6 separate regions of the Homo sapiens genome follow, and all the other regions are linked to region 2. The links come from fine-mapping of genetic effects on gene expression. A gene starts in region 2. Each other region holds a variant in brackets. All regions are shown on one strand. Distances are from middle to middle. Region 1 overlaps ADGRF5 (adhesion G protein-coupled receptor F5). Region 2 holds the start of PLA2G7 (phospholipase A2 group VII). Region 3 overlaps RCAN2 (regulator of calcineurin 2). Region 4 has its middle 19 kb from the start of ANKRD66. Region 5 overlaps SLC25A27 (solute carrier family 25 member 27). Region 6 overlaps CYP39A1 (cytochrome P450 family 39 subfamily A member 1).

Region 1 (5,078 bases), 120 kb before region 2:
AGCAGTGGACAGCAGGAAAGATGTATCTCCACTTCCCAGGTCCAAGCAATTCTCCTGCTTCAGCCTCCCAAGTAGCTGGGATTACAGGCATTTTGGGAGGCCGAGGCGGATGGATCACCTGAGATCAGGAGTTCAAAACCAGCCTGGCCAACATGGTGAAACCCCATCTCTACTAAAAATATAGGCTTAAGATTTAAAATAAAATAAAATAAAATAAAATAAAATAGTAAATATCCCTGCCAGCCTGCTGAATTGGCCTTAGAGAGTAGGGTGTGTAGTGGGTGTGACTCTCACTGTCACCATTGCTAAATGCTTACTGGCATCTTTCAGTCTTGGGGACCCATCCTTTGCTAAACTCTGCCATAAGAAGGTCATACATCCCCACTGCCTGTGATGTCTCATTTTTGTTTTCTCATTTCCTCTTACCTTTATGCAATCAGTTTCTAGGAAGATGTTGTTTTTTTCTTTTTTATGATTGAAAGAATTTGGTTAGTTTGACCCCATACCATTTCACTTTCAGCACGTGCTCTCTACGGTTAATGTCATCCTTGGCAAGCCCGTCTTGAACACCTGGAAGGTTTTACAACAGCAATGGACCAATCAGAGTTCACAGCTACTACATTCAGTGGAAAGATTTTCCCAAGCATTACAGTCGGGAGATAGCCCTCCTTTGTCCTTCTCCCAAACTAATGTGCAGATGAGCAGCATGGTAATCAAGTCCAGCCACCCAGAAACCTATCAACAGAGGTTTGTTTTCCCATACTTTGACCTCTGGGGCAATGTGGTCATTGACAAGAGCTATCTAGAAAACTTGCAGTCGGATTCGTCTATTGTCACCATGGCTTTCCCAACTCTCCAAGCCATCCTTGCCCAGGATATCCAGGAAAATAACTTTGCAGAGAGCTTAGTGATGACAACCACTGTCAGCCACAATACAACTATGCCATTCAGGATTTCAATGACTTTTAAGAACAATAGCCCTTCAGGCGGCGAAACGAAGTGTGTCTTCTGGAACTTCAGGCTTGCCAACAACACAGGGGGGTGGGACAGCAGTGGGTGCTATGTAGAAGAAGGTGATGGGGACAATGTCACCTGTATCTGTGACCACCTAACATCATTCTCCATCCTCATGTCCCCTGACTCCCCAGATCCTAGTTCTCTCCTGGGAATACTCCTGGATATTATTTCTTATGTTGGGGTGGGCTTTTCCATCTTGAGCTTGGCAGCCTGTCTAGTTGTGGAAGCTGTGGTGTGGAAATCGGTGACCAAGAACCGGACTTCTTATATGCGCCACACCTGCATAGTGAATATCGCTGCCTCCCTTCTGGTCGCCAACACCTGGTTCATTGTGGTCGCTGCCATCCAGGACAATCGCTACATACTCTGCAAGACAGCCTGTGTGGCTGCCACCTTCTTCATCCACTTCTTCTACCTCAGCGTCTTCTTCTGGATGCTGACACTGGGCCTCATGCTGTTCTATCGCCTGGTTTTCATTCTGCATGAAACAAGCAGGTCCACTCAGAAAGCCATTGCCTTCTGTCTTGGCTATGGCTGCCCACTTGCCATCTCGGTCATCACGCTGGGAGCCACCCAGCCCCGGGAAGTCTATACGAGGAAGAATGTCTGTTGGCTCAACTGGGAGGACACCAAGGCCCTGCTGGCTTTCGCCATCCCAGCACTGATCATTGTGGTGGTGAACATAACCATCACTATTGTGGTCATCACCAAGATCCTGAGGCCTTCCATTGGAGACAAGCCATGCAAGCAGGAGAAGAGCAGCCTGTTTCAGATCAGCAAGAGCATTGGGGTCCTCACACCACTCTTGGGCCTCACTTGGGGTTTTGGTCTCACCACTGTGTTCCCAGGGACCAACCTTGTGTTCCATATCATATTTGCCATCCTCAATGTCTTCCAGGTGAGTTTTACAGTGCGGAGCTTTCAGGAAGATTTTATTCCTGT[A/G]GGACAAATTAATGATAGAAACACAAACAAGAGTAGGAATGGGGAAGGATTTCAGCCCAGAGGAAGCCTCAGCTCTAAAGAGCAGTAATAATGAGAACTCAATCAGATGGAAAGGACACATTCTTCTGATCCTATGGCACCTCATGCTTTTTATCACCTACATTATAATTTAGTGTCATTTGCCAGTCTCTGCTAAATACACTGATTACACTAGTAAAAGGAAAATCCCCATTTGTCTAAGATTATCTTGATGTAGTCTATTATCTCCTAAATGAAAATCCTGTCTTTGTGAGGACAGGGATTGCCCCTTTCTTGTTCATCACTATACCTCTATGCCTGATAGAGACCTTGGTACAGAGTAGGTTCTCAATAATCATTTGAATGAAATAAATCCTATGTACCACATAGCAGCTTCTCTGGAAACATCAAAAATCAGAGAATGAATGTCCTGTGAATGCCAGACAATCTGCTTGATTATACTACAATGAAAAAACATCTTCTTCGCTCTCCTGCAGCACATAACTAACTACAGTGCAGGCCAGTTTGTTAGAAGAACTATAACAGAGGTATAGATAGCAAGCCTTTAAAGTACAAGGAAGGAAGTGATTAATTCTGTTTCACCCAATGGAGAGGTGGTAAGGATAGAAAAAAACTTGCCCAAGGATTGAGGCCACTGTAAACTTGTGAAGAGGCAGAGGCTGGAGGCACACTCGAGATACTGCTTTCAGGATGCTTGTGCCAAGAACATATGAACCTTGATTTCTGCTACTGGGCCTGTGTCTCCAAGCTATGTAGTTCATATGTAATGACCTTCATGATATGCCTCATTTGGAAGGAACTAGTTATCCCACCCCATAGCCCAGATTCTTATCACAGCTATGTAAAGAATATTGTAGACACAAGAGGTGTATTAATAGCATAACCAACAGGACCTCCAGTTTTCAACTAAAGGAAAATTGGAAAATAGAAAATATCTTCCTAACATCATAACATTTAGAGTCCCTTGGTGTGGACCAAATGCCTGTCTTTGAACAGTATCATGTACTGGACTCATTCCATAAACTCAGAAGGAAAAAGAAGTAGTACAAATTTAACACCAGGTTAACAGTACTTCCTCCTTTGCTGGACAATAGACTATAATTAAAATGCACTTCTTTTCAATCTTTTTTTTCTCAGGGATTATTCATTTTACTCTTTGGATGCCTCTGGGATCTGAAGGTAAGAGCAATGACAGTTTCATGTTTCTAGAAAAGTCTGAAGTGCTTGTGGCATGTTGAAGTTACGATAGCTTCTTTTTAACAATGCAGGTACAGGAAGCTTTGCTGAATAAGTTTTCATTGTCGAGATGGTCTTCACAGCACTCAAAGGTAAACTTTTTCTCTGCAGAGACTTTTCATTTTATAACATCATGTATTCCACTAGCATTCTGAAGTACAGAGTACTAAATTTTTTCTTTGGGATTTTGATCAATTAGGCTAAATATATTGCATCCTCAAACCTGTCTCCCTCAACAGCTGTATTTGGCATAGATCATTCCATTGTTTTTGCTTCTCAAGTCATTCTGTCTATTAAATAGAGCCATAGAGCTGTCATTGAGATGCTACTCCACATATTTAAATAGGTTTTAAAATAATATATGATATAAACTTAAGGTTGAAATCAAACGTTCAATGAGAAGCAATCTTCTGGGGGGATTCAAGGCATTAGAGAAAACAAGTTGAAGAATAATAATGGATAGAATTTTCTGTAGTTCATTTTGGAACACAACTATTGCCCTTGGATATATCTGACTGCCTTTCACATGTCAGAAAATGCTAGAAGCCTAACAAACAATAAAACTTGTATTTGACAGTTATTTTTCTAATACAGATGATAAGATTCCAGTATTTTAATGTGACCTCTGGGAGTGGGACTAGAGATTCCGGCAGTGACCACTAGAGGGTGGAAAATCAATCCTTCTAGAGATGGAAACAGCTTTGGTCCCACAAATTTGCTTTGTGATTGTCCCTTTTTTTCTCTCTTCTAGTCAACATCCCTGGGTTCATCCACACCTGTGTTTTCTATGAGTTCTCCAATATCAAGGAGATTTAACAATTTGTTTGGTAAAACAGGTGAGTAGTGGCCTCCAGTTTCTCCCTGCTTGTCCAGAACACATTTGCTCAAATGGGGAGCCTCAACACCCCTACTCTTTCACCCCGCTCATGGCATTTACCTGAAATGTCCTCTTTTGGGGTAGAGGTTAAATAGAGGAACTTACATTTTCACAAATCACCAAAAAGTGGGTACAGAGGGCAGCTGCCTTTGCTAAGCAACTTATAATAACTCATAAAGAATAAGATTTGGAGAATCTAGACAATGATTTGGAGAGCTATCTGTCAAAATATCATCCATCAAAATGAGAACTGTAAATTGCTGGCCTTGTCAAACACAGAGTTCTTCTCAAATTATGTTAGATAAGAGTAGATAGGTCATGTTTCAGGGTTATGGGGCAGCAAAGAATACATTTAGAAAATCTTACTACAGGATCTCACTATGTAGGTTTGTTTTCCTTTTTTGTTCTTTTTATAAAGTGTGCTTGTGTTACACATTGAAGCGTATAGAACTGTGCATGCATTACGTAAGGGATCACCCAAGTTAGCTATTCTATTAGAAATATTACCTCTCTGAACTCACTTCCTCATTTATAAAATAGGGTAATAATTATGACTTCATAGAGTTGTAAGAATTAAATAAGCAAATATACATAAAGTGCTTAGTATGGTACATGGATTATAGTAATTACTCGGCATTCGTGATGACGCCGATAGTGGTAGTGGTGGTGGTGCTGCTGATACTTCAGTCAACCCTGCTATTATTGATTCAACTGGCAAAGGCCACAGTATCTCACTGAAAAAAAAATATTCACAGTTAAATTTCTACATTGGAGATATGAAATGAATGGAATTAATAACTTTGGGCAACAGACCTCAGCTATTCTAGCAAATTGAAACCCCTGTCCCCATGCCATCATCCCTTCCTCACAGGAAAATAAGCCCCAGGATTTCTTCTAGCTTTTTGGAACTGAACAGATCTCACAAATGCAGAGTTGAGAAATGCATCAATATTCCAGATGAAGGCTT
Region 2 (5,078 bases):
TTCTAACAACCTCGAGGGCTTCCAAGTTCCTAGTCATGCTTTCAATTGTATTGAACCCTATTTTTCCCTCCAGACTTCCTACTGCAATCAGGATGGGTTGCTTCCTAGCCTCCACACTGCTGCCATTCTGGGACCTCTCCTGCTTATCTCGGTTGGAGCCACTTTTCTTTGGGTCCCAGACAGTGAGGTGTCCTTGACTCCCACATCTTTCTCAGGATAATTAAATAACTCACCTTGCTGAACTCCCACAGTCCTCTGTATTTGCCTAATAGGGTAGCACTTTTTGTTGTTATTTCCTTATCCTCCAGGGAAGGACTGTGTCTTATTCATCCTTGAAATGGTACCTGACATACAGCTGGCCCTCACCTCAGTAAACACTATTCAAATTTAAAAAAAAACGTTGAGCGCATGGCAAGGCACAGTGGCTCACACCTGTAACCCTGGCACTTTGAGAGGCTGAGGCAGGAAGATCGCTTGAGCCTAGGAGTTCAAGACCAACCTGGGCAACATAGTGAGACACTGTCTCTACAAAAAATAAAAATAAAAAATTTAGCCAGGTGTGGTGATATGTGTCTGTGATCCTAGCTACTTGGGAAGCTGAGGTAGGAGGATTGCTTGAGCCTGGGAGGTAAAGGCGGCAGTGAGCTGTGATCATGCCACTGCACTTCAGCCTGAGTGACAGAGTGAGACCATATCTCCAGAAAAGAAAAAAAAAAGAAAGAAAGAAAAGAAAAGAAAAAGAAATTGAGCACATTATTACAATTTAATATCTTGATTGAAGGGAAGAGGTGAGACATCAGTTTCATTCATATTAAAGAGGAAATAGGTACTGTTATGTCAATGGGAAATGAGAGGAGGAATTAAATGTAGGAAACAGAATAACAAAGAACCAACTCATAAAAAACTAAAACAACCCATATCAGACACACCTTATAATCTGTATGTCTGTGTTGACTTATCCTCTTGGAATGTGAGGAATATTCTTTATTAATTTTACTTACTGGGTTGCCAGATATAATACAGGAAGCCCAGTTAAATCTGAATTTCAGATAAACAACAAATAACTTTTTAGTATATGTCCCAAATATTGCATGGGGCATATTTATACTAAAAAACTATTTATTGTTTATCTGACATTCAAATTTCACCAGATGTTCTGCATTTTTATTTGCTAAATCTGGGCACTCTTCACTGGGCATCTTCTCAGGGCACTAACCTGCCAAATGCCAACTGCTGTGGGGCTGCTCAGAGAATATGACCTAATGACAATGGGAGATGACATGTTGCTGGCAATGAGAGAAGTGAATAAAATGTTGCATACTTGTTTTCAGGAGCTGTTCTCAAAGCTTACCACCTTTTTAGTGTGGGATTAGGTCTTCAACTTCAACTTTGTCTTCACCTTTGTCTTAAGGTCAAAAGAAGACGTTAGAGATGTCTTTGGTAGGGCATAATGTATCCTTTTAGATTGATATTTGTGGGCCATTTGTTTTACAGGGGGTTAGTCCAGGAAGTACAAGACAATGTCATTAGGCGGATAGAGTTCCATTTAAATTAAAAATAAAATCTATTGTTAGGTTTAAATGAGTCACTGCTTCATTAAGCTATCAATATTAGATAACACATATTGAATGAATGTTTCCCATAGGCCAAGCTCTGTCCCAAGCATTTCACATGTATTTGCATTTCGTGCTCACAAACTGCCTCTGACTGACTGATTTTGATTTTCTTGATTTTATGGATGAGGAGACCGAGAAGCAGAGATGATGAACTTCCCCAAGGTCACACCACTCATAAGTGGGAGAAACAAGCTAAAATTCAGGCCATCTTACTGCAGAATACTCAAAATCAAAATAAGCAAAATTTCATCTCCAGTTCTGGCACCTCACCAAAAACCAAAACACGATTTAAAAATATAAAATTTTAATAACACCACACATAAATTTCAAACTACTTTCCCTAAGTTTCTAGCTGAAGTTTTAAATGAGTGTGTTTTTAATTTATTAGAAAGTGGATTGAAGAGAAAACATTGGAAGATGAAGGAAGGCGTTTCAGTTAAACCCCAAATAACTCTGTGTTACACTGAGCTATGAAACGGCTCCTTCTAGCTCCATTTCTCCTCAGACCTAAGTGCTATTCCTGATTGTCCTTCATTGTCATTTCCAGGGAGAAATGACACCAGCACAGTGGCAGGCCTTCCAATCTGGAGCACGGTCCACACAACTTCCGAATTGGTGTTCAGTGTAAAGTGTATCGGAGTGCGGAAAATGCGCAGGGCATTGCCAACTATAGATGCTCGGAGTAATTCAGTGTATTCAGAGAACACGGTGAAACAAGGAAAACCGGCCTGACTGGGGGGTGAATTCAGCAGGGAGTAAATCTGATCGGCATCAGGTCTGCGGAAAGGAGCTGGTGAGCACGACACCACCCAGGCATTGCCTGGCTCTCTCCGCGGCGGGCTAAGTTAACCGCGGGTCCAGGTGCGGGCCATGGTCTTGGGGAGGGTGCTGGGTGCGCTCGAGCAGGCTAGCGTCGGGAGCCGCCGCTGCTAGTGAGAGGCCGGGGCCACACACGCTCCTCCCCGGTACCTCCTCCAGCATCACCAGGGGAGGAGAGGGTCGGGGCCACAAGGCCGCGCTAGGCGGACCCAGGACACAGCCCGCGCGCAGCCCACCCGCCCGCCGCCTGCCAGAGCTGCTCGGCCCGCAGCCAGGGGGACAGCGGCTGGTCGGAGGCTCGCAGTGCTGTCGGCGAGAAGCAGTCGGGTTTGGAGCGCTTGGGTCGCGTTGGTGCGCGGTGGAACGCGCCCAGGGACCCCAGTTCCCGCGAGCAGCTCCGCGCCGCGCCTGAGTGAGGAGGGGCCCCGGGGGCGAGGCGGGAGTGGGAGGAAGGGCACGGTCGCCGCGCTGGAGGTCGGGACCCCGGAGCGGCGACCGGCCGGGGTGGGCTCGCTGAGTCGCACCCGCTCTGCTGGCCGGTCCTGGGCTCACAGTCCCTGCAGCCCTCGGAAACAGCGCTAGGATCCTTGCGGGGAGAGGGAGAGGATGACGGTATTAGACACCAGTTCTTCCAAACCTTTTCCCGAAAGGAAGCAACCCTAAGAGCTCAGAGCTGGGGGGAGAATCAGGACAGGCAGGGAACACATGGAGTTTTCTTTTCTTTTTTTTCTCTCTCTCTCTCTTTCTTTCGTTCCTTCTTTCTTTCTTTTGAGGCGGAGTCTCATTTTGTCGCCAGGCTGGAGTGCAGAGGCGCGATCTCGACTCACTGCAACCTCTGTCTCCCGGGTTCAAGCAATTCTCCTGCCTCAACTTCCCGAGTAGCTGGGACTGCTGGCGTGCCGTATCACGCTCGGCTAATTTTTTTGAATTTTTAGTAGAGACGGGGTTTCGCTGTGTTCGCCACAATGGTCTCGATCTCCTGACCTCGTGATTCGCCCGCCTCCGCCTCCCAAAATGCTGGGATTACAGGCATGAGCCACCGCGCCCGCCCCGGAGTTTTCTTATCTGTAGATCTCCTACAGGGACAATCTCTCTCTCCGTCTCTCTCTCTCTCTCTCTCTCTCTCTCTCTCTCTCTCTCTCTCTCTCTCTCTCTCTCTCTCTCTCTCTCTCTCTCACACACACACACACCACTACACACCTCTCACTCTGCCTCCTCTCTCTCTCTCCCTCCGCTCTCTCTCTCACACACCCTTCTCCCTCTCTCCCTCTCTCTCACTCTCCCTTTGAGGAGTATTGCGTTTTTGGAGCCCAGTTATGCGTGGCTGCTGTAAGAACAAAACAAAGCACTCTTTGTCCTACCTGGAGCATCCCCCTGCCGGCCAGATAAGATCACAGCTGTGTCACCAAGTCAAGGGAGAGGCTCATTTTTAAAAAATTAAGCAAAATCAGAAAACAGAGAACACTGTCTTCCTCATCATCTCCTGGAGCTTGTAAGAGAAATTTCTGTCACCAAAAACGAAAAGTTCGGGCTTTTATTCATGCCTGTGGTTCTTGGGATTACTGCAGTGGTGATGAGGAAGGAGAGGTGCGTATGGCTCATAAATGGCAGCTTGCCACCTTTAAAAGGCACACGGATTCAGATTTGGGATGTGTTAACAAATCAGGCTTGCACAAATTACTTTTGATCCAAATGAGAATGCTGAGCTGGGAGACTGGTATATGGGTAGGAGCTGGAAAATGTATCCCCTGAGGTGTTGGCAATCCCAAGAGGCTCAGCACGAAACCTTGAGCTTACATTGAATTCAGAGATCTGAGCATTAAGCACTGGCCTGATCAAGAAGAAGCAGATGGCCTTCTGGTCACGAGGCACTGGTGAGCCTCCATCACCCAGGCAGATTCCCTCACAGAGGAATTCTGCTGGCCCTGCAGAAAGTGGTGAGACAGCGCACCACCTTGGCATTTTCCAGCAGGCCTACTTCAGCTCCTTGCACTTGGGCACTGAAAGTGCTTTCCCCTCCCCAGATATTTGTGCACCAGAAGCTGCTGCTGGCCATGTGGTGATGTCTCAATGTCTTTCTTCATTGAACTGGGCCCTTCATACCCAAGGCTGGCACCATAGTCTGTGACTGCCTACTGTACAGCCAGCAAGACTGAAGGAGTTGCAGCATTAGGAGTGTTGTGAATCTGGTTCAGCCACTCATTTTACAGTTGAGAAATCCCTTCTGAGGTGTGGAAGGGCTTGCTTAGCACCGCAGGACTTTTCCCTCAGACAGAACCTGGGACAGCTGGGTCCTCATTTCCTCTCCATTGTGTCTCTGTCCCCTTTGCACTTTTGTTGTGAGGAACATACATGGGCCTAAACACATTCCCTCACTCTCACCTTTGCACATGAATATGACTTACCACACTCTTTGAAGCTCTGTCAGCACAGAACATTAAGAAAAGTGCTAACTGGGTACCTGAGCAGCTGGAGTGGGAGCCCCTGGGAAAGTCAGTTTAGGAGTCCCCTTTATCTTCCTTTTCCTGATACCCAAGAAGATGGCTATTTCCTGGAAAGGAAGGTGGATATTGGATTATTTACACTCTGATTCCTCTTAAGCCTAATTTTTTTTCAAGATTCGTGATAATAAGCCTGACTGAC
Region 3 (5,078 bases), 280 kb after region 2:
AGGTGTTTTATGCTAAAATATTCAAGCAACAGTATAAATAAATATGAAAGAAAATACATGCACATGTTTCATTGAAGTTGTCTAGCAGTTCAATTCCCTTTATATTAATGCTATTACATGTTTTTCCTTCTAGTTAAAAATATTCATATATTTTAGATTATTTAATAAAACATGTACCATATTTTTATTTAAAATAAGTATTTTGTTGATTTAAATATGGAAATGCGCTAATTGGAGTTTGAAGAACTTTGGAGTGCAAGAATTGTTTTATTATATTTTATATAGAAATTTTTACTTACCACAATTTTGATGATTTGATTTTAGAGATATCACCTCAAACTATTTAATTTTTGGCTCCTACCTCAACCGGGCTTAAGATTTTATATGTAATGCATTATTGCCAGAAAATGCTGCTTACCAACTCTCATTGGGGCTTTTCTAGGAAAAATGAAAATAAAAAACATAACCTCATCACTATGAGGTTCAAGGGTTTATTTCACAGTTCAAGAGAGAGATAAGCAGAAACTGATATTTTGTCTGGGGATCTGGAATTTGTATCTAGCTAAACTTCATGAGAGCAGATTGATGTTTAGTGGTACCCACCTTTCTGTCCTTTGCTCTGAGCATCTGTGATGATGGGACTGAAGAACATGGAGCTTCCTGAAGATGATTCAGTAGCCATGTCATAATTTTCAGTCAGTCTTACTTGCGTAACCATGAGCAAGTTATTTCACTTTCCGAGCCTCTTAACTATTGAGCTTTGAGCAGAATAGTATCACAGTCATGAAAATCGGTACAAAAGAAGAAAGTAGATACCAGCCTTGGACTATATGGGGATACTGACCTAATCCACTAAATTATGTACCAGTATCAAAAAAATGGAAAAACTCTGCAGTTAGGCAAACTGCAAATATAAGGGGTGAAAAAATAATAGAAGGGTTGAACACAGCTAGGTGAAATCAATACTGGAAAGCCTTACAAGGCAAGGAGGGACGGGGACCTGTGCACCATGGATTGATCAAGATAGCACTGATTTTTTTAGGATCTGGACCTGGTTCACAAATGACTTGAAGTAATTATCTCAGTCAGAAGAGGAAATATCTGGGAGGTGTGTGTGTGTGGTGTGTTTACTCTCACTGTACTCTCACAGGATGAACTATTACCTGTTAGAGTTATCATGATCAGGATTCAGGTGCTGATGAAGTAGATCATACTTTCTTAAATATAGGCTTCTACTTATTTTGATCTGCTTCATTCCTGTGGCATAGGAGAGTGAGCTCTGGTGCCAGTTTCCCTGAGTTTGAATCCTAGCCCTGCCATTTTGTCAGTGGTCTTGTAAAAGTTACTTAATTGCTTTCTTCCTGTTTTCCCATCTGTAAATTGGGGAAAATATTGGTACCAACCTTATAGACTATTGTGGAGATTAAATAAGGTAGTTAATGTATGTAATTGATGTTCTAAATTTATATAAATCATTTAGAATAGTGCCTGGAACTCAATACACGATAGACATTGGTAGTAGTGGTGGTGATCTCCATTTCCTATACCTATTTGTTTGTCTGTTTGTTTTAAAAAACCATAGTACTGACTCGGTTCTTGCCCCAGAGCAGAGCTGTATGGGAAATTCTGGTTCAGGGATCAAGGGAACCATGTGAACTTGCAGATCTTCTCCCTTCCAATATCCCCTGCCTCTGCTCCTAATCGTACTCCACTGTTCTGCCCCTGACAATACAAAACTGTGACCCGAAAACTGAGTTTTAAGGAATTTGTTCTGCAGTAACACATGCTCATCTTTGTATCCCCAGGAATGAGGGGAGAATCATACTTCATCGGAATGAGGAGCCCAGGGCAGCAGGGACACGTCCCTGAAGATGGAGGACTTTTCTTACTGTGCTGCATAGACAGGGACTGGGCTGTCACTCGTTGTTTTGCAGAAGAAGCCTTTCAAGCAATCACTGACTTCAATGACCTCCCCAACTCGTTGTTTGCGTGCAATGTTCACCAGTCAGTGTTTGAAGGAGAAGAGAGCAAGGTAAGCTGCCTTTTTCTGTTCCTAAAACATGGGGAGATATGGCATTATCTCCAAGTAATCCTGTTGTTCATTTGTGGTTGGTGTTTTGAAGTTTTTGGAAATGTTTAGTTGGCTCTATTTTTGGCATGTGTACCAGGATAAGAAAATCCCATTCTATTATCAACTAACTTTAGAGATACATCTGACAGGGTTGTAGATGAGAATATGTTGAATCAAATTGAGTCCTCTGTGACTCACAGGTCTATCTAGCAAAACAAATGGTGTTAATATGGATTGTAGGAAATGCCCCTTAGGCTAGGAAGCAGATGTCTTAAACTCCTAAAAGTTTCCTTTTCCTCTATTCTGCCATAAATATAATTTGCCTTTCTCAAAACAATACAAACTCCATTTTACCTCCAGCCTTCCCGCAGCTTGACGAATGTTCTAAAAAAGCCTTCTTAAACTGTGAGCCAAGTCTCACAGTAGATATTAGAGAAGGTAAGTTGGTTGGCATCTGAGTCCTTCTTTGCTCATTGATACCATGGTGGTATTGCCATGTGTGTGTTGTAAGAATTTGAATGAAGCAGCAACTCCTCAATTTGAAATGATAGGGGAATGAGGTTGTCTATGTATTAACATTTTCCAGCTTCCCATTTTAAGAAACAGACTTAACTTAGTGTAAATGTTTTTGGCAATCACAGTAAATATTCCATTTGGAGACCTTTCCAAAGTTTATTTCAGATTTCTCTGACCTTTGAATGGGGTATCTAAATGGATTAAACCTTCCCTTGTAGATGTAGATTCTTAGTTGTAAAAGCCACTATTATACTACTGAAACATGGACAAAATTTTTTGGATAAAGGGCCTTTTTTTTTTCTTTTTCTTTTTCTTTCTTTCTTTCTTTCTTTTTTTTTTTTTAAC[G/A]GAATCTCGCTCTGTTGCCCAGGCTGGAGTGCAGTGGTGCAATCTCGGCTCACTGCCAGCTCCACCTCCTTGGGTTCACGCCATTCTCCTGCTTCAGCCTCCTGAGTAGCTGGGACTACAGGCGCCCATCACCACGCCCAGCTAATTTTTTGTATTTTTAGTAGAGATGGGGTTTCACTGTGTTAGCCAGGATGGTCTCGATCTCCTGACCTCGTAATCTGCCTGCCTCGGCCTCCCAAAGTGTTGGGATTACAGGTGTGAGCCACTGCGCCCGGCTGAGGCTTTTTTTTTTCTAAACTAAAGTATATGACTCTGTGTGAGGTATAAGAGTAGGCTTTATGGTTGCTGTTTCACAGACTTTAGCTCTTTCTGCCCATTGCTGAAGTCTGTGTCTGGCATAATTACTGGAAGTCTGATTTACGGATATGATTGATTTTGTAGACAATCCTGATAGCCACAGACAAAACCATCCCAGAGGATTAGGAATTATTTTAAGCCATTTAAAGATATTTTTATAATGATATCAGTGTGGAGTTGAACTGTTGAAATTATGGGCTGAAAATAGCTTGAAATACAAGGAATTATATATAATTAGAACCTCCAGTGCTATGATCATCAGACTATTTAAAGTAAGAAAGTGGCACATGCCAATTTCTTCTTTGGAAGAAACTGAGAATTTTGTTCTTGGATTATAACCAGATTATCACAAATGATAATTTTCTCAGGGCAAGTAGTTTCCTCTGAAATATACCTGCCATAAACTATAAAGCAACAGTCTATGTATTCTCATCATATCATCCATTTCTCTAAATATCACAATTAGAAGGATTTTCCTTAGAGATTTAATGAGGGTTTTCATTCTTTCCTGATTAAATACTTCCCAGTAGACTGAAACAATGAGGCCTAGGAAGGTGCTAATCTCATTTAGCAGTGCTGCTCAAGAATGGCTGATTAACTGAATTAGAACTGAGGACATAGAAGGACAGGGGCTGGAGGGGGGAGTTCATGGGAGTCTGTACACATCTATTTTGATATTCTGATTTGTGATTGAATAAAGGATTACAAGATATTCTCATCTAATGTGTATACGAAGTTTGTGCATAGCAGTTTGGGAAATAGTATTTGGTTTTAGGATGACCTTGATAAAATATTGAGGCAAAATAAACAAGAATATAGTTAATTGCACTCAGTTTCAAATGATTTAGATCACCATTTTACAGCCATGGAGGTGAATTTTATAATTGGCTGAAGTCTATGTAATTCAGTTTATTAAATCAGAAAGTGTCCTACCTCAGCAAGATTTTTTTTTCTTTTTTTACTCTTCCTTTTGTGGACAGTCTTTAGGATACCAAATAATCTGACATGGATTTAATTTTGACTTAATTATATCTATATAGTTTAAGGTGACAAAACAAGATAATCAGATACCAGATAAGTTGACAATAGCCAGGAGGCATGATTGCTGGGACTCCAGAAAAAAAAGTGGGGAGTCTTGTGGCATCTCATTTTCACTGCATATTTCTCTTCCAGACCCAGAAATTCATATTTCTTTCATTTAACCTCCTTTTTAAAAAACTATTATGATAAAATCACTTATTTTAAGACATTAAGTATCATACTCCATTCTGTCAGAATATTCTTTCCACAAGGTTTAGGTTTCGTGAATCTGAGCCATGAAGTCTGATGATGGGTATTTTCCACAAAGGGTGGACATTTTAGGCACTGTGATAAGTTGGTGGGGAGATATTTTTAGGCAGGGGGAAAAGAAGCAAAAAGCATTTCCAGCACTCCTTGTATTGGCCTATGGGCAAGGCTGGCCATGGTAATTGTTTTTATATTTGGCTTTGGGAAGATGTATTCAGCAGCCTGGAATTATAGCAGGGGGTGGAGACATCAGAAATGATGCTTAGCCTTCATTTCCAAGGTTTACGAGGGTCGGTGGTTTCATATGTAATTTGTTTTGGCAGAGTCTTTTCTTTTTTGGCACAGCCTGCTTCTGAAATCATTGTGTCTTGATATTGATGCATTTAAGTTTAGCCTTTGTCTTGCAATTATTATAAAGTATACATTTAACTTCCATAGTTGGGTAGGAATTAAACCTTTTGCTTTCTATCACAAATGAGTCTTGCAGCATTCTCTTCTCTAT
Region 4 (5,078 bases), 30 kb before region 2:
TTTTCTTTATTGAATGTCCTTGACACTTTTATGACAAAAAAATCTATTGACTATCTTTGTGGGGATCTATTTCTTGACTTTGTATTCTGTTTCATAAATCTATGTATCTATATTTTTGCCAACATCACACTATCTTGATTATTATTATAAGCCTTGAAATCAGGTAGTGTGCATCCTTGAACAGTGTTCTTTTTCTAAATTGTTTTGACTATTCCGGCTCTTTTACGTTTCTTCATAAGTTTTAGAATCAGCTTGACAATTTCTAAGAAAAAGTCCTTCTGGTATTTGGATTGGGATTGTATTGAATTTATACAGCAGTTTGGGAAGAACTGACATCTTAACAATATTGAGTCTTCTAGTCAATGAGCATTTGTATCTCTCCACTTATTTAGATCTTTGATTTTTCATCAGTTTTATAATTTTCAGCATACTAACCTTGCTCATATTTAAATTTATCTCTAAGTATTTCATGTAGTTTGGGTACTATTATAAATGGCATTTTATGCATTTTGTCAATTACCAGTAGTGCATTTGCTAATATATAGAAATGAGGACTGACTTTAATTATATTGAACTTGTGTCCTGCAACCTTGCTGGTTTCACTTACTAGTTCTAGTAGCTCTCTTTTCTGATTATTTGGAATTTTCTAAATAAACAATTGTGTCATCCATGAACAGAGATTATTTTAGTCTCTTTTTATTCAGCTTTTTTTTTCTTATCTTATTGCACAAGCTAGAACCTCCAGTATAATGTGGAATAGGAATGGAGAAAAGAACATCCTTGTCCTGTTCCCAATATTAGGGAGAAAACATTCAGTCTTTTACCACTCACTACAGTAGCTATGGTTCTCCTGATAGATGAGATGAAGTAGGTTTTTCTAGTTTTCTGAGTGTTTTTATTTTATTTTACTAAATTTTCTCAGATGCTTCTCTCATGTCTCATGTGGTTTCTTTTCTCTAGTCTGTTGATAGACTAAATAGAGAATTACAAGGAGTGATTATTGAATGTTCAACCAGTCTGGCATTCGTGGGGTAAAAAATACTACCTAGCCATGGTGTATTATCTTTTTATATATTGATGGATTTGATTTGTTGCATTTTGTTAAATATTTTTGTACCTGTGTTCATGAGAAATATTGGCCTGTAGTTTTCTTGTGATGTTTGCGTCTGGTTTTGTTATCAGGGTAATACTGGCTTCATAACAAGTGTTAGAAGCATTCCTCCCTCTTCTATTTTCTGGAAGGATTGATATAAAATTGGTATTGTATTTTCCTTAAATGGTTGGTAGAATTTGCCAGTAAAGCTACTTGGGCCTGAAGTTTTCCATCTTGGATTATTTTTAACTAGAATTTGAATTTTTTAAAATAGATAATTTTTTATGAGTAAACTTTGACAAATTATGTCTTTCAATGTATTTTCCCATTTCCGATAAGTTGTCAAATTGTAGGCATCAAGTTTTTCATAGTATTATTTTGCTACTTTTAATATCTATAGATTTCTCCATTTTTATTAATCAAAAATTTTATCAAATTTGTAGTCACCATAATCAGATTACCATAAAAGAACGAGGGTTATCTCACTGGATTGATGTAATTCTAGACCTAAGCAAAAAATTAGATGTTTGGCTTATTAAGGTCAGTCTTCCCTATTAAGAACCATTGATTTATGTTGGTCATTTTGAACTATTATTCTTTTAAGGTCATCACTGGTGTATTTGCAACCCAGTGGCCCAAATAGTTCTAGCAGTTATTTTTCCAGATGTTTTTGGGATTTTCTAAGTAGACATCATGTCAACTGTGAAAACAATATAAAAAAGAAAATTGAGATCAGAAATTTTAAGTAGTTTTCCCAGAAACATTCCAGATGCAGGTTGAGAACTAAGGGAATTCATCTAAATCCAAAAAAGGCAGCATTGGAGAATATAAAATAATGAGCTAAAAAAAATCAAGCACAGCAGCTATAGTTTGCAATCTTTCATTAATAATTTATTGATTGGCTGGGTATGGTGGCTCACACCTGTAATCCCAACACTTTGGGATGCTGAGGGGGGTGCAGATGACTTGAGGTCAGGAGTTCAAGACCAACCTGGCCAACATGGTGAAAACCCATCTCTACTAAAAATACAAAAATTAGCCAGGTGTGGTGGTGCACACCTGAAGTCTGAGCTACTTAGGAGGCTGAGGCAGGAGAATATCTTGAATCTGAGAGTCAGAGGTTGCAGTGAGCCAAGCTCATGCCACTGCACTCCAGCCTGGGCAATAGAGGGAGACTGTCTCAAAAAAAATAAAAAATAAAAATAAACTATTGGTTGATTTCAGACAAATAACTTTATTAAACTTGCATTTCTCTATCTGTAAAAACCCTTACTTAAGTATGACATTTTGAAGAGATTGATACAAAATACCTGGCATGCACATGGCTGATGCTCAGTAAAAAGAAGCTTCTACTATTTGTCACTGCAACCACTTCAGTAACTTGAGTTAAAATTCAACTTGAGCCACTTTCGAAAGGCCAGGCTTGGAAAACAAAAAGGTCAAGTTTCTCCAGGTTGCTGAGAAAACCATCCTTAACTTCTTAAATACTTTAGCTTAGGTTCAATGAGGATTTTATTTGGTTTTTTCAGTTTTAGGGGAAAAAAAATTATTCCTCACCCTTATCTAGAAAATACTCGATGACTCAATCTCAGTCAAGAAATGTATATTGAGCATGACATGGGACTACCTAGGCCCATTGGGAGAAACAAAAGAAGTATATGCAGAGCCCTTGCTTTTTAGAGATCTTAAAGAAGACCCAAACTCAGAGGAAAGTGGTATCTATGAATCAATCAAGAAAAGGAAACTATCTCATTAGAAGTTTATTTCGAACCCGAAGCAGGACTAAATAGAGTGGGCCTTGTACTCTGAGTGGCTTTCTGGTGGAGGTAGACCCTGAAGAAGGAATAGGATTTGGAGAAGCAGGAGGGAAGACAGAGGGTGTCTAGCAGAGATGACAGGAGCCAGGGCTCAGAGCAGACAGGCAGTGTAGCACGCGGACGTGAGGCCAGGCTGTGGAGCTTAAGTCCAAGTTCCAGCTCTG[T/C]CCTCTGCTGGTTGTGTGACTTGGGCAGATTACCTAACCTTATGAACCCCTATGTCCTCATTTAAAATAACAACTAACTCAAAAACTTGTTGAGTAGACATGGTAACATGTTTGGAACAGCACACAGGGTAGGTATCAGTAGGCAGTGAGCAGCCCAGCTTGGCAGGCACCAGGGGTGTACAAAGCGGAGTATTAGGAAATGAAATTAGATTGGAGAATTGGGATCAGAAAAAAATGTATATAATTATTCATAATTTTTATTATTAACTTTTTTTTAAAGAAATCTGTCTTTTCTCTGAAAATTGTAGCCTTATGTTTTAGTATTGTTCTTGATCGAGGTGGGTTTTTTTTTGTTGTTTGTTGTTGTTGTTGTTGTTGTTTTGGGACCGAGTCTCCCTCTGTCACCCAGACTGGAGTGCAGTGGCACAATTTCTATTCACTGCAACCTCTGCCTCCCAGGTTCAAGCGATTCTTCTGCCTCAGCCTTTCAAGTAGCTGGGACAACAGGCACGCACCACCACACCCAGCTAGTTTTTGTATTTTTAGTAGGGACAGGGTTTCACCATATTGGCCAGGCTGGTCTTGAACTCCTGACCTCATGCTCCGCCCACCTTCACCTCGAAAGTGTTGGGAATACAGGCGTGAGCCACCGCGCCCGGCCGATCGAGGTTGTTTTAAGGGTCTCCTTCTTGAGAGATTTTAAAATCCACATTGTAGTCACTTTATCTTCTAAATTTTTCTCCTCTTCACTTAATAATGTGGAGGGTGGAAAGCAGGAGTCAAGATATCATTGTCTCCCAAATCAGTGTTGCAATATTATAAGAAGATGAACTGAATCAATCATTTTAAGTGTTACAGAAAAATTTAGCGTGAAATATGTGATCTGGTTAAATTGGTTTTTGTTAGATGCTTTTTTTGTTTTACTTATAATGTTTCTCTTCAGGAACTTTTAAAATAACATTGCCTGCCAAGGGAGTATATGAGACAGAAACAGAAAATAAAAGGTTGTTAATTCCGAAGTTCAAGGATTAAGGTCTGAAAACTGATAAGAAAAAATTTTAACAATGTTTTTGGCTGAAATCAGGGTATTTGTGATTCTCTCCCAAGGAATGACCAATAAGGGGTATTGTTAAGCAAAATAGATCCCACCAATCTTTTTGATAATATAAGTACTAAACAATAACATTGTTGCCTGCATTTTTAATGTTTCTAACTAGCTGCTTTTATTTCATGGAGACATACCCTGAATGCAGTGTTCTGTGGTACAGTTCTTAGAATCCACAGTAAAGGTTGGTTTTTAAAAATAAGATATAAAAATCTTCCCATGGACAAGAAAGTATTTCCATATAATTCAGTCACTGGCCAAAGTAAACATGTAAATGCTACGCAGAAGAGCCCTGGACATACATAGTGCTACTCACCCTCTTGGTAATATAATGGAAGTAGCTCAGAGCCAAGAGTCAGTAGCTTCTGAATTAGTTTGCTAGGGTTACCATAACAAAGTATCACACACTGGGTATGACACACTGGGTCGCTTAAACCAGAAATTCATTGTTTCATCATAGTTCTGGCAGTTAGAGATTCAAAAATCAAGGTGTTGGCAGGGCTGTTTCCTTCTGAGGGCTGTGAGGGAAGGATCTGCTGCAGAACTCTCTCCTTGGTGTGTAGATGGCCATCTTTTCCCTGTGTCTCTTCACATCCTCTTTCCTCAGTTAGTGTCTCCTTCCATAAGGATAGCAATCATCCTGGGTTAGAGGCCCACTCAACTCCACTCCACTTAATTAATTACACCCCCAGTGACCCTATTTTCAAATAAGGCCACTTTCCGAGGAACTGAAAATTAGGACCTCACATATAAATTTAGGGGGGGAAACAATTCAACCCTTAACAGCTTTGATTTCTCATTTATAAAGGCATCTTCTAATATTTTGATTGTAACTTTCTAAATTTTCTTTTAGCAAGCATTTATAATTACTGATCTAAGAAATAGATATCCAAAGTTGA
Region 5 (5,078 bases), 55 kb after region 2:
TTGTTCTTTTCCCTCAAAATTGTTTTTGATTTTCTATATGTATTTTAGAATATACTTGTCAACTTCTGCAAAAAAATTTGAAGGCTGCTGGGGTTTTATTAGAATTGCTTTGTAGGTAGAGATCAATTTGACAATAATTAACTTTGGAGCAATACTGAGTCTTTTAATCCATGGACACAGTTCATTGCTCTACTAAAATCTTTAATTTCTCTCAGTAATGTTTTATATTTTTCAGTGAACAAATCTTGTACACATTTGTTAGATTTATCCCTAAGTTTTTAATGTTTTTATGCTATTGTAAATAATATTAATTTTTAAATATTTTAGTCCCTAGTTTTTCATTGCCAGTATACCAAAATATATTTTTGTATATTGGCCTTATATCTTGTGAATTTGCTAGGACTTCATTATTAATTCTTGTAGCTTTTGGTAGATTCCTTGGGATTTTTTTTATATATGTAATTATATCATCTGTGAATAAAGGCAGTTCCATGTCTTCTTTTCTAATATATGTGCCTTTTATTTCCTTTTCTTGCTTTACTGCAATGGCTAAGACCTTCAGTACAGATTAGAATAAAATGGTAAGAATTGATATTGCCTTGTTCCTGATTTAAGGAGAAAGTCTTTCACAAATACGATGTTAGCTACAGGTTTTACTTAGATCCTTTTTATCAAGATGAGGAAGTTTCTTTTTTACTCATGTAAAAATTTGAGAATTTTTACATCAAATACTGTTGAATTTTATCAAATACTTTTTCACATTCTGTTGATATATGTTTTGTTTTGTTCTGTTAATTGGATGAATTATATTGATTTTTTAGGATGTTGAACCAATTTTGTATTCCCAGGATAAGTCTCACTTAGTCATGATGTATTATACTTTATATGATGCTGGATTCAATTTGCTAATATTTTTCACATCTACGTACATGGATTTTTAAATTTTCTGTTTATTGTGGTAAAATATACGTAAAACAAAACTTACCATTGAAACCATTTTAAAGTGTAGAGCTCAGTGGCATTAAATATATTCACATTGTTGTACAACCATTACCACTATCCATTTCCAGATTTTTTTCATCATCCCAAACTGAAACTGTACACACTAAACAACTCCTCATTCCCTCCCCACTATTCGAAACTGTCTTTATGAATTTTCATTATTCTAGTACCTCAAGTAGAATCATGTATGTATTCACTTTTGCCTGGCTTATTTCACTCAGCATAATGTTTTTAAGGTTCATCCATGCTGTAGCATGTATTTCCTTCCTTGTTATTACCTTCTTAACTCAGAACTATATCAGGACAAAACAAAACCCGTGATAACAAGCAATTAGGCACTTTAAAATATTTACTTTTAAAATCAGAATAACACAGTTTATTTACTCACATATATTCCTGTTTGTTACCAGATATTTTCAGCAAACAGACATCTTTAAGCATCTTCATCTGCTTTTATCAAACCTTCAACTGGCTCCTGCTGCTGTTGACAATCACAGCAGCCTGTTGGGGGTAAAGTATGGGGAGAGAAGAAAGTAATGTATTCCTCAAAATTCAGAAATAATAAAACACTTGAGTGGGTAAAATGTTCATGTATATGGCATCAATGAAGGCCAAATAGTGATATAATTTCCATACATGCTTTAAAATCACATATTTATTAACTGTTAGTCAATTATATATTATTTAAAACTATCAAATTCTCAATTTTATGGAATAGCTATTAAACAGATGAAGATGATCCTTAAAATTATGACATGTTTTAAACACACATGATCATTTAAAAACATAATTAAGCATTTAATATGGTAAAAAATTTCATAAAATCAGAAGTGTTATTGACCCAACATAATTATTCTGAAGAAGAGAACAAAATGATTTAATCATGTGTATAAATGTCTTTCTCCCCACTCTCCAAAAAACCCTCTCAATTCAACAGATACCTTCAGAGTGGCTCCTATTTGAAGTTTGTAAGGGATACAAAGATGTGTTACATGGTCCTTGCTTTCAAGCAATACATTTTGTGTAGGGGACGCTGATATGTACATCTATGTAGTAGGGGAAGCAGTGGGAGAAAGGGGGTACTGAAGATACTGAAGGCTTCAGAGAGGAAATAGTAGGTGATTATTTTAGATAACTGAGGTAGAATTTAACCAATACAAATAAAGATGAATAGGTGGTGGTGGTGGGAAGAAAGGTAGATGGAGGGAACAGAATAAACTACATAGAAAAGCAGCAAGTATAGTGCATCTCCAGGGAAATAATTAGAGCAATGCATTTCCAAGGAGGTAGGGTACAGGTATGCAGTGAAAGGTAAAAGTGAGAAAAATGGGCTGGAGTCAGGTTGAGAGGGTCTTGGATATAGCATTAAAGGTTTTAATTTTTAGTATGTGTGTATATAGGAGAAATTGAAGGTGAGAATATGCCCAAAGTTGCCCCATGGAAGACGACTGTGCTTCCCTGTGAAGAATGGATTTCAGGGTGACAGTCCAGACACGTCAGAAGTCTGTATTGTACTTTAAGGTCTGAATAATTTTTCCCCATCTTGAAATATGAGAATATAAACCCAAGCATAAAGAATCCTAATGACATTTTTAAAATTCTATTTTTTTAAACATCACATCAATATGGCTCCCTTTAGGTATACACAGGTTAAGATTCTAGAGTTCAATCACTTCAGCTTTTCTTTTTTTTTTTTTCTTTCACGGACAGAGTCTCCCTCCGTTGCCCAGGCTGGAGTGCAGTGGTGTGATCTCAGTTCACTGCAACCTCTGCCTCCTGGGTTCAAACAATTCTCCTGTCTGAGCCTCCCGAGTAGCTGCGACTACAGGCGCATGCTAATTTTTTGTATTTTAGTAGAGACGAGGGTTTCACTGTGTTGCCCAGGCTGGTCTTGAACTCCTGAGCTCAGGCAGTCCGCCCGCCTTGGCCTACCAAAGTGCTGGGATTACAAGCGTGAGCCACCGCGCCCGTCCCACTTCAGCTTTTAAGGAAATGGGAATTCAGAGAAGTGGAGGGACTT[G/A]ATCCTAGTTATACTCTTCTGTCAGAAGTAGAACCCAAAATAGGATAAAGATCTTTAGATTCTGGGTTCAGTCTTTCTTCCACATTATCTGACATTCAATAATAATATATATTTGCTGGGTAGTCATCTTTAAAGAGTCTCAGTTTAATTGGGAAGAAAAGAATTACTTATTTTCCTTTCCAAAGAAATTGTTTTAACCATCAAGTATTAAAATTGACCATTTTTTCTAGGAAAGTCCTGAAGGAATTTGTTTTCATTAATAGAAAAAATATATGTAATTATAACAACTGTAAATAAATGTGCTTGAAAATTTGAAGATGACTGAATAACAAATCCTTTCATATTTATATTGTCCTGAATTTTTATTTTTTTATTAGCAAAGTAAAAGAGAAATTGCAGACTCATATGATAGTCACAGATTCTTTTTTTTTTTTTTTTTGAGATGGAGTCTCACTCTGTCACCCAGGCTGGAGTGCAGTGGCATGATCTCGGCTCACTGCAAGCTCCGCCTCCTGGGTTCACGCCATTCTCCTGCCTCAGCCTCCCTAGTAGCTGGGACTACAGGCGCCCGCCACCACGCCCCGCTAATTTTTTGTATTTTTAGTAGAGACGGGTTTCATCATGTTAGCCAGGATGGTCTCGATCTCCTGACTTCGTGATCCGCCCACCTCGGTCTCCCGAAATGCTGGGATTACAGGCATGAGCAACCATGCCTGGCCAGTCACAGATTCTTAAAACAATAAAGATAAAATTAATTGATTCATGTTATACGTAGCTGTAATCATTTTTTCTTAATAGCAAAGAAATGCTACTAAAGAGAGCAGAGATTTATATAAAAATGGAAGATGTATACCTACCCACTAGTAGCTTACAATCAAATAGTATTGGGAGCACTTGAAAAAGACATGTTATTCCATATTGAAAGCAAACTTAATAAATGTTATCCCTTTAATTATATATAAATTAATTCATATATAATTTATATCATATATGGCAAATTTAGTCTATAATTATATATACTAATTCATTTATACATATAAAAAACTACATAATTAAAAATAAGTATATGCATTTTCAGTAAGAAAAAAATCATTTGAGAGGAGAAAAAATAGAGAAATACCACATAGAGTAGTACTATAAGTAAGTGAGTTTGGAATTCTTAAGTCTGTGAGTATGGACACAAAAATTACTGAAATTTTTAATCCTTTTTATTTACTGAGGATTATTTTGGAAAACAAGATGATTCCAAGTTGGCAAAAATAAGCAATGTTCCAAAATAATCAGTAGATATGATTTCACCAGAAAATTATGAATGTGATTGGATAAGTATTGGGTATACTGGATTTGGTTAGGTTATAGAAGGTCTTCATGTTCAAGCTAAAGCATGGTGACTCCATTCTAAAATGTATGCTAGAGACAATTCAGATTCATCTAAAATGTATGAGACATAAAAATGCCATAAGGAAAAATCTGTTTTTAGAAGACTCTACTGGGTTGTGACCATGACATAAGACCCTTCCTTGGTACCTAATTAGTGAACAATAACTCTCAGTCATAATAATCATATTAGGAGAACTGTGTTTTTATCCTGGCTCTGCTACTAAGTCACTCATGAGCATAAACAACTCTACTTCTCTGAATCTCAGTTTACTAACATGTGAAATGGGAAGGTTAAATTAGATAATCCCAAGGAGTCATTTCAGGTTAAAAGTTCCTGAAATTCGTGTTGATCCAGATCCCAAGGAATGATGTCAGTGCGTAAGCAGTGTTTTCATCCCAACTCCCCGACCCCACAAAGAATAAAGCTAAATCAATTGTTCACGGTCCAGGTTGGATGCAATTATTTTGATCCAGTCTTTACTTAATTTTAAAAATTACAAAACATAAAAACAAACAAAATTTTCCCTAAGTGGTTCAATGCAGAACACTTGGGAAGTTAAGCATATATATATATATATATATATATATATATATATAATATTTTACAACGCAATTACATATTGACAAATTCAATGAAAAAGTAGACCATCTAAATATTTTAAGAGATTAAACTTCA
Region 6 (5,078 bases), 140 kb after region 2:
TGATTTTTAGGTTTGAACTTGAGCAGCTGGGCAAACATTGTTACCATTTTCTGCGATGGCAAGACCAAGGGAAGAAAGGCTTTATTTCAGTGGGGCAAGTGAAGAGTTCTGTGTAGGCCAGTGTTGCTTTGAGATGCCTTTTAGACCTGCAAACAAAGCCAATGAGAAGCCAGCTGGATAACAATAATCTGGAGCTCACAAAAGGGATGAAGGCAAAAAATGTTATTGTGGGTGTCACTAGCCCACTGATGGTATTTTATAGAAAAGGGTTTGTTTGAGTCCCCCAGGAGGATAATGTAGAGAAGAGAAGAGGGCCCAGAACTGACACCTGGCAGTCTTGGGGTACATTCAGAAGTTGGATAGCGGGAAAGATACCTCCTGTCATCTCTGGATTCATCTGGTATGAGCAGACTGGAACCTCAGTGGAACACCCTTGGAAGAGAGGGTGGATCCATTACCAAACCGCCAAGAACCAGTGCGACAGCTTGTTCTGATCTGCATCTACAGTTGATTGACCTAGTCACTTGCTACACCAGACTCTATTTCACACTGAATTCCTGTTATCTGAACATGCTCTTTATTTTTGTGTATCTGATTTTTTCTTCAGATTTTTTTCTTCTGAAAAGCCTCTCTGACACCTCCCTCCCCCGTCTGGTCACTGTCACCGCTGTGCTCCTATAGCGAGTTGCACACTTTAATGTGATAGCGCTTATTGCATTAACCACTTTTAGTTCTCTGTCTTCTCTATCAGACTATTCAGAGCCAGAGACATGACCTACATCTTCATACTCAGCACTTGCAAACTACCTGTAGGGTCTCAGTCTCTGCAGATATCTACTGAACAAATAATGGAAGGAATTCCTCAGACCTGGCCCCCAATTCGTGTTGCATATGCAACCCCACACGCCAATCTCTAAATTTTCTCCCAATAAAGGTTTCAGGAAAAAGAATAACTTTATTAGCTATGGAGTAAAAGTAGATAGGAAGGTGTGGTTTCTAAAGAGTCATTATTAAATTCGCATTAATAGTAACGGTAATAATAAATAAAAAGTAAATCAGCACCACCTTGTACTGAACACTTAGTACATACCGGGCACTGCTCTAAGTTTGTGTGTCATTCATAAACTAATTCAAAAATTAGAACCTCAGGATTTCTCATTTTAACATTGTCTAGACAAAGCACTTATTCTTTCTTTAATTTTTCATCTTATAGTCTTTTTGATGGTAAAGATCTCCAAAACTTAAATTTCTTATATTTCCTTAGCACTTTATTCTCCAGTGAATGCCAAACATTTGTCTATTTGATTTAGCAATGATATCTGTTACATATGCAAAATCTCAGCCACTTTTCAAATAAAGAATTCTGACCATGGCTTTTCTAAATTATTTTTCCGAATTAGTTTAGAAAATGTTGGGATAGTTTGGGGAAAATGTAAACTAAGTAAAATGTATGGTACCCCTGTCTTTCCATGGTGTATCAAGACAGTTTTCAGTTGGTGATCATGTTTTAGTTCTTAATAACTACTCATAGATTATGCCATGTGCACGAAAGTTTATGCCATGTGCTAGTAATCTTCAGACATTAAAAATAGGGTTGGTTTGCTTTTTCGGAGGATTGCCTTGGAAATAATCTGTATCCTAATTTATATAGCTAGTTATCTTTTATGTAGCTAATGATTTGCTTGTATGGATATTGGTAGAAGACAGATTCCATGTTACAAAAAGTTTGAGAATAACAGTGTAAATAACTGTTTTATTGCAGGATTTCTCAAAGCCTGTAATACACTAATGTGTCCAGTGAATCACCAATAACATGTAGCATTTTTCGTATTTGGTTGCCCATGAACCTTTTTCCTCCTTCATACGTTTGACATCTTGCAAATATTTCATAGAACACAATTTGGAAAAACTGTGGCATTTAGGTTGTGAAGATGCAGAAGGCATACTTATTGTTTTCCAATCTTTGTTACGGAAAAGGAAAACCAACAGTTTTGTTGGGCAATGCCTGCAGAGATTACAACAAAAATCCCATAAAAGTGCTTATCTCCTTTTAATATTAGATTGCTCAGATCTGAGCAAATAAGCCGAAGGTCTTAATTTAATACAGAATAGTGCTGTATATCACTGTTTCATTGTTGAGGTGTTAACACTCCCTCAGCCTAAGACAGGAAGTTTCCAATTTCTCTAGCCTCCGGATGTTCCAGAATGGCATTTAGGATCGTCTGTAGTATGGCCTTAGTGGATCTCTCACTGTTCCATCACATATGTCTCACCTTCTGGGCAAACTGGACCCATTGCCATTTTCTAAATGTACTCATGTTGTCTGCAGTCTTACTTTTGTTCTTCCTCTTTGCCTAAAATATCCACCCATTCACCTCCCTATGTTGAAGTTGGACCATTTGCTAATTTAATATATATATACTGGGGTTGACTCTATGCAAGAAACTAATCATATTTGTAGTTTTAGAGAAATATATTCATAAAATATTTTCTTTTTCATCTAGTTGGATGTGAACCCTATCTGCTTTAAACTACCTTAGCTGTGAACCCTATCTGCTTTTAACTACCTTAGAATATTTTACATCTTAGAAAATAGTTTCTTTGCCTACATGTTGTACTAGTCAACTGTGTGCTTGTCTCTTACCTCCTAGTAGACTAAGTGTATTGCAAGCAAGAGCTGCGCCTTAGTTATTGTAATACTGGTACAGCCTGTCTCAGCTCCTGGTCCCTACGTGGTACTTAAGAATCTGTCAGATTGAATGGAGTTCATAGGTTCCTAGACTCCACTAACCAAAGGTGTTTGCTTCTGACTCCTTAGGAATTCTATCTATACTGACAGAAAAGGTTTCCCAGGCAGCACCCAATAAACCTTTTCCTGCAAAATGGGCTTGCTTTTGAA[C/A]ACGCCTCATCCAGAGTCAAAGAGAGACATGGCTGGAGACCCTAGTTCTACTCTTACCCACTCATTCCCAAGATGGTCTGAAAGCAAATGTGAAAAAGAGAAATGCGTTGACTTAATTAAACTGACAATATTGTTGTTGACTTTTCTTAAGCAAATACTGTCAAAAACAAATTGAAAGCGCAGTTGTTTCAAGTAATTTTCAAAATGCAAACATTTTACTTGAAATATTGTTAACTAAACTGTCTAATTTGACTGAAAGTTCCTGCCATTACTTTAGATGGTACAAAGGTTGATGGTTGATGCCCTTCGTCCACCCCACCCCCTCCTTTTTCAGGTGCTTTCAGTCTAAAGATCAAATAAAGTATGCACATCACGTTAAGAAAGTTTGATGCACCTGTGTTTAGAGGGCATCTTCATTCTTCCAGCTCAGATACTTGTGCCCCATTGCCCCTTTTCCAGTTGTTTTTTTGAAATGAATGATTTAGGGGGAAAAAAAAAAGCAATTCAAAAGGGTAAAGGCAGAAGAAAAAGGCCGGATGGCTTCTCGTATCTTTTTCTTTGTGCTTTTGATGTCAGTCTTTTATTGCTTTTTACATAAGTGGAATGAGAATTTAGACAAGAAAAAGATGAGTAAAACCTTTCTGACAAGGACTGTCTTAGCTATTTGATAGCTATAAGACTGTGGGAACCTAAGTTGGATACCAATCCATCACATTACAGTAATCAACATTGGCTTAGTTTTTTGTGTCATACATTTTACCTTGTCAAGAGAAAAGTGATAAAGAAAAAGAGGCAATTAATGACTAAACCTGTAATAGGTAATAGTAATAGGAACACTTTACTTGCTGTCAGAGGCAACATCTAACCTCTGCTGATGAGCTTACGTGAAATCACTTTCTGACCTCTGTAGTCTATTTATTTCTCATTAAAAATTTTTTTACAGGCAAAGATAAGATTAAAGTGTCTGAGGATGACCTGGAGAATCTCCTTCTAATTAAATGGTGTGTTTTGGAAACCATTCGTTTAAAAGCTCCTGGTGTCATTACTAGAAAAGTGGTGAAGCCTGTGGAAATTTTGGTAAGCTTTGGTTTGGTTTTAAATGAATCAACCTTCTACAAAAAAAGTACACATTTTGCCCACATATATTTTTCAGGTTGACATATCTTGATTTATTTTTACTTGACAAATAAATATTTTATATATTTGTCTTGTACAACATGTGGTTTTGAAATATGTATACATTATGGAATGGCTAAATCAAACTAATTAAAATATGCATCACTTCACTTGCTTATCAGTTTTCTGTGTAAGAAGACTAAAAATCTATTCTCTTGGTAATTTTCAGGAAAACAATATGTCATTACTAGGAATAGTCACCATGTTATACAATAGACCTCTTGAACTTACTCCTCCTGTCTAACTGAAGTTTTGTATCCTTTGACTAATATCTCTCCAGGTCCTCCTCCACCCCTTCTTTACCCTTCAATCCCCGGTAACTACCATTCTACTCTATTTCTGAGCTCACTTTTTTTAGATTCAACATATAAGTGAAAATACACTTATATGTGGTTTGTCATTCTTCCTGGCTTGTTTCACTTAACAAAATGTTTTCTAGTTTCATTCATGTTGTCACAAATGAGAGCATTTCCTTCTTTTTAAAGGTTAAATAGTATTCCATTATGTATATATACATTTTATAAACATGGGAGTGCAGATATGTCTTCAACATACTGATTTCATTTCCTTTAGATATGTACCCAGTAGTGGGATTGCTAGATCATATAGTAGTTCTATTTTTAATTTTTTGAGGAACCTTCATACTGTTTACCATATGGCTATACTAATTTACATTCCCACCGATAGTGTGCAAGTGTTCCCTTTTCTCTACATCCTCTTCCACAATTATCTTTCATCTTTATGATATAGCCATTCTACAGGAGCAAGGTGATAGATCCTTGTGTTTTTAATTTATATTTTCTTGATGATTAGTAATGTTGAGCATTTTTTTATACCTGTTGGCCATTTGTATGCCTTCTTTTGAGAAATGTCTATTCAGATTCCTTGCCAATTTTTAAAAATCATTTTTTTTGTTTTTGTTTTTTACTAGTGAGTTGTTTAAGTTTCTTGTATATTTTGGATATTAACCTCTTGTCAGATGTATGGCCTGCAAAAATTTTCC

The links. PIP is the estimated chance that this variant, and not a neighbour inherited with it, causes the effect. A credible set is the group of variants that fine-mapping cannot tell apart.
Region 1: its variant is the best candidate, but not a certain one, in a credible set for the expression of PLA2G7 in whole blood (INTERVAL, PIP 0.75).
Region 3: its variant is the best candidate, but not a certain one, in a credible set for the expression of PLA2G7 in whole blood (INTERVAL, PIP 0.81).
Region 4: its variant is the best candidate, but not a certain one, in a credible set for the expression of PLA2G7 in whole blood (TOPMed, PIP 0.62).
Region 5: its variant is the best candidate, but not a certain one, in a credible set for the expression of PLA2G7 in cerebellum (GTEx, PIP 0.77).
Region 6: its variant is the best candidate, but not a certain one, in a credible set for the expression of PLA2G7 in whole blood (INTERVAL, PIP 0.68).

The regions. Positions count from the first base shown.
Region 1 is chr6:46,854,966-46,860,043 of GRCh38, reverse strand. ADGRF5 (adhesion G protein-coupled receptor F5) reads left to right here. Exons shown (of 21, transcript NM_001098518.2): 17 at 521-1,915; 18 at 3,136-3,177; 19 at 3,267-3,326; 20 at 3,986-4,070. Among named protein-coding and RNA genes, the nearest start is that of ADGRF5-AS1, 46 kb to the left of the region's middle. The variant A/G (reference allele first, on the strand shown) is at 1,960.
Region 2 is chr6:46,732,949-46,738,026 of GRCh38, reverse strand. PLA2G7 (phospholipase A2 group VII) reads left to right here and starts at 2,652. Exons shown (of 12, transcript NM_005084.4): 1 at 2,652-2,847.
Region 3 is chr6:46,453,706-46,458,783 of GRCh38, reverse strand. It overlaps RCAN2 (regulator of calcineurin 2), which reads left to right. Exons shown (of 5, transcript NM_001251974.2): 2 at 1,806-2,032. The coding sequence starts at 1,808. Among named protein-coding and RNA genes, the nearest start is that of RCAN2, 35 kb to the left of the region's middle. RefSeq lists an enhancer at 1-311. The variant G/A (reference allele first, on the strand shown) is at 2,933.
Region 4 is chr6:46,763,117-46,768,194 of GRCh38, reverse strand. No RefSeq gene overlaps it. Among named protein-coding and RNA genes, the nearest start is that of ANKRD66, 19 kb to the right of the region's middle. The variant T/C (reference allele first, on the strand shown) is at 3,075.
Region 5 is chr6:46,677,952-46,683,029 of GRCh38, reverse strand. It overlaps SLC25A27 (solute carrier family 25 member 27), which reads right to left. Exons shown (of 9, transcript NM_004277.5): 9 at 4,840-5,078. All of the region lies in intron 1 of TDRD6-AS1 (TDRD6 and SLC25A27 antisense RNA 1), which reads left to right. It also overlaps a transcript of TDRD6 not described here. Among named protein-coding and RNA genes, the nearest start is that of TDRD6, 7.4 kb to the left of the region's middle. The variant G/A (reference allele first, on the strand shown) is at 3,023.
Region 6 is chr6:46,594,885-46,599,962 of GRCh38, reverse strand. It overlaps CYP39A1 (cytochrome P450 family 39 subfamily A member 1), which reads left to right. Exons shown (of 12, transcript NM_016593.5): 8 at 3,843-3,976. Among named protein-coding and RNA genes, the nearest start is that of CYP39A1, 55 kb to the left of the region's middle. The variant C/A (reference allele first, on the strand shown) is at 2,900.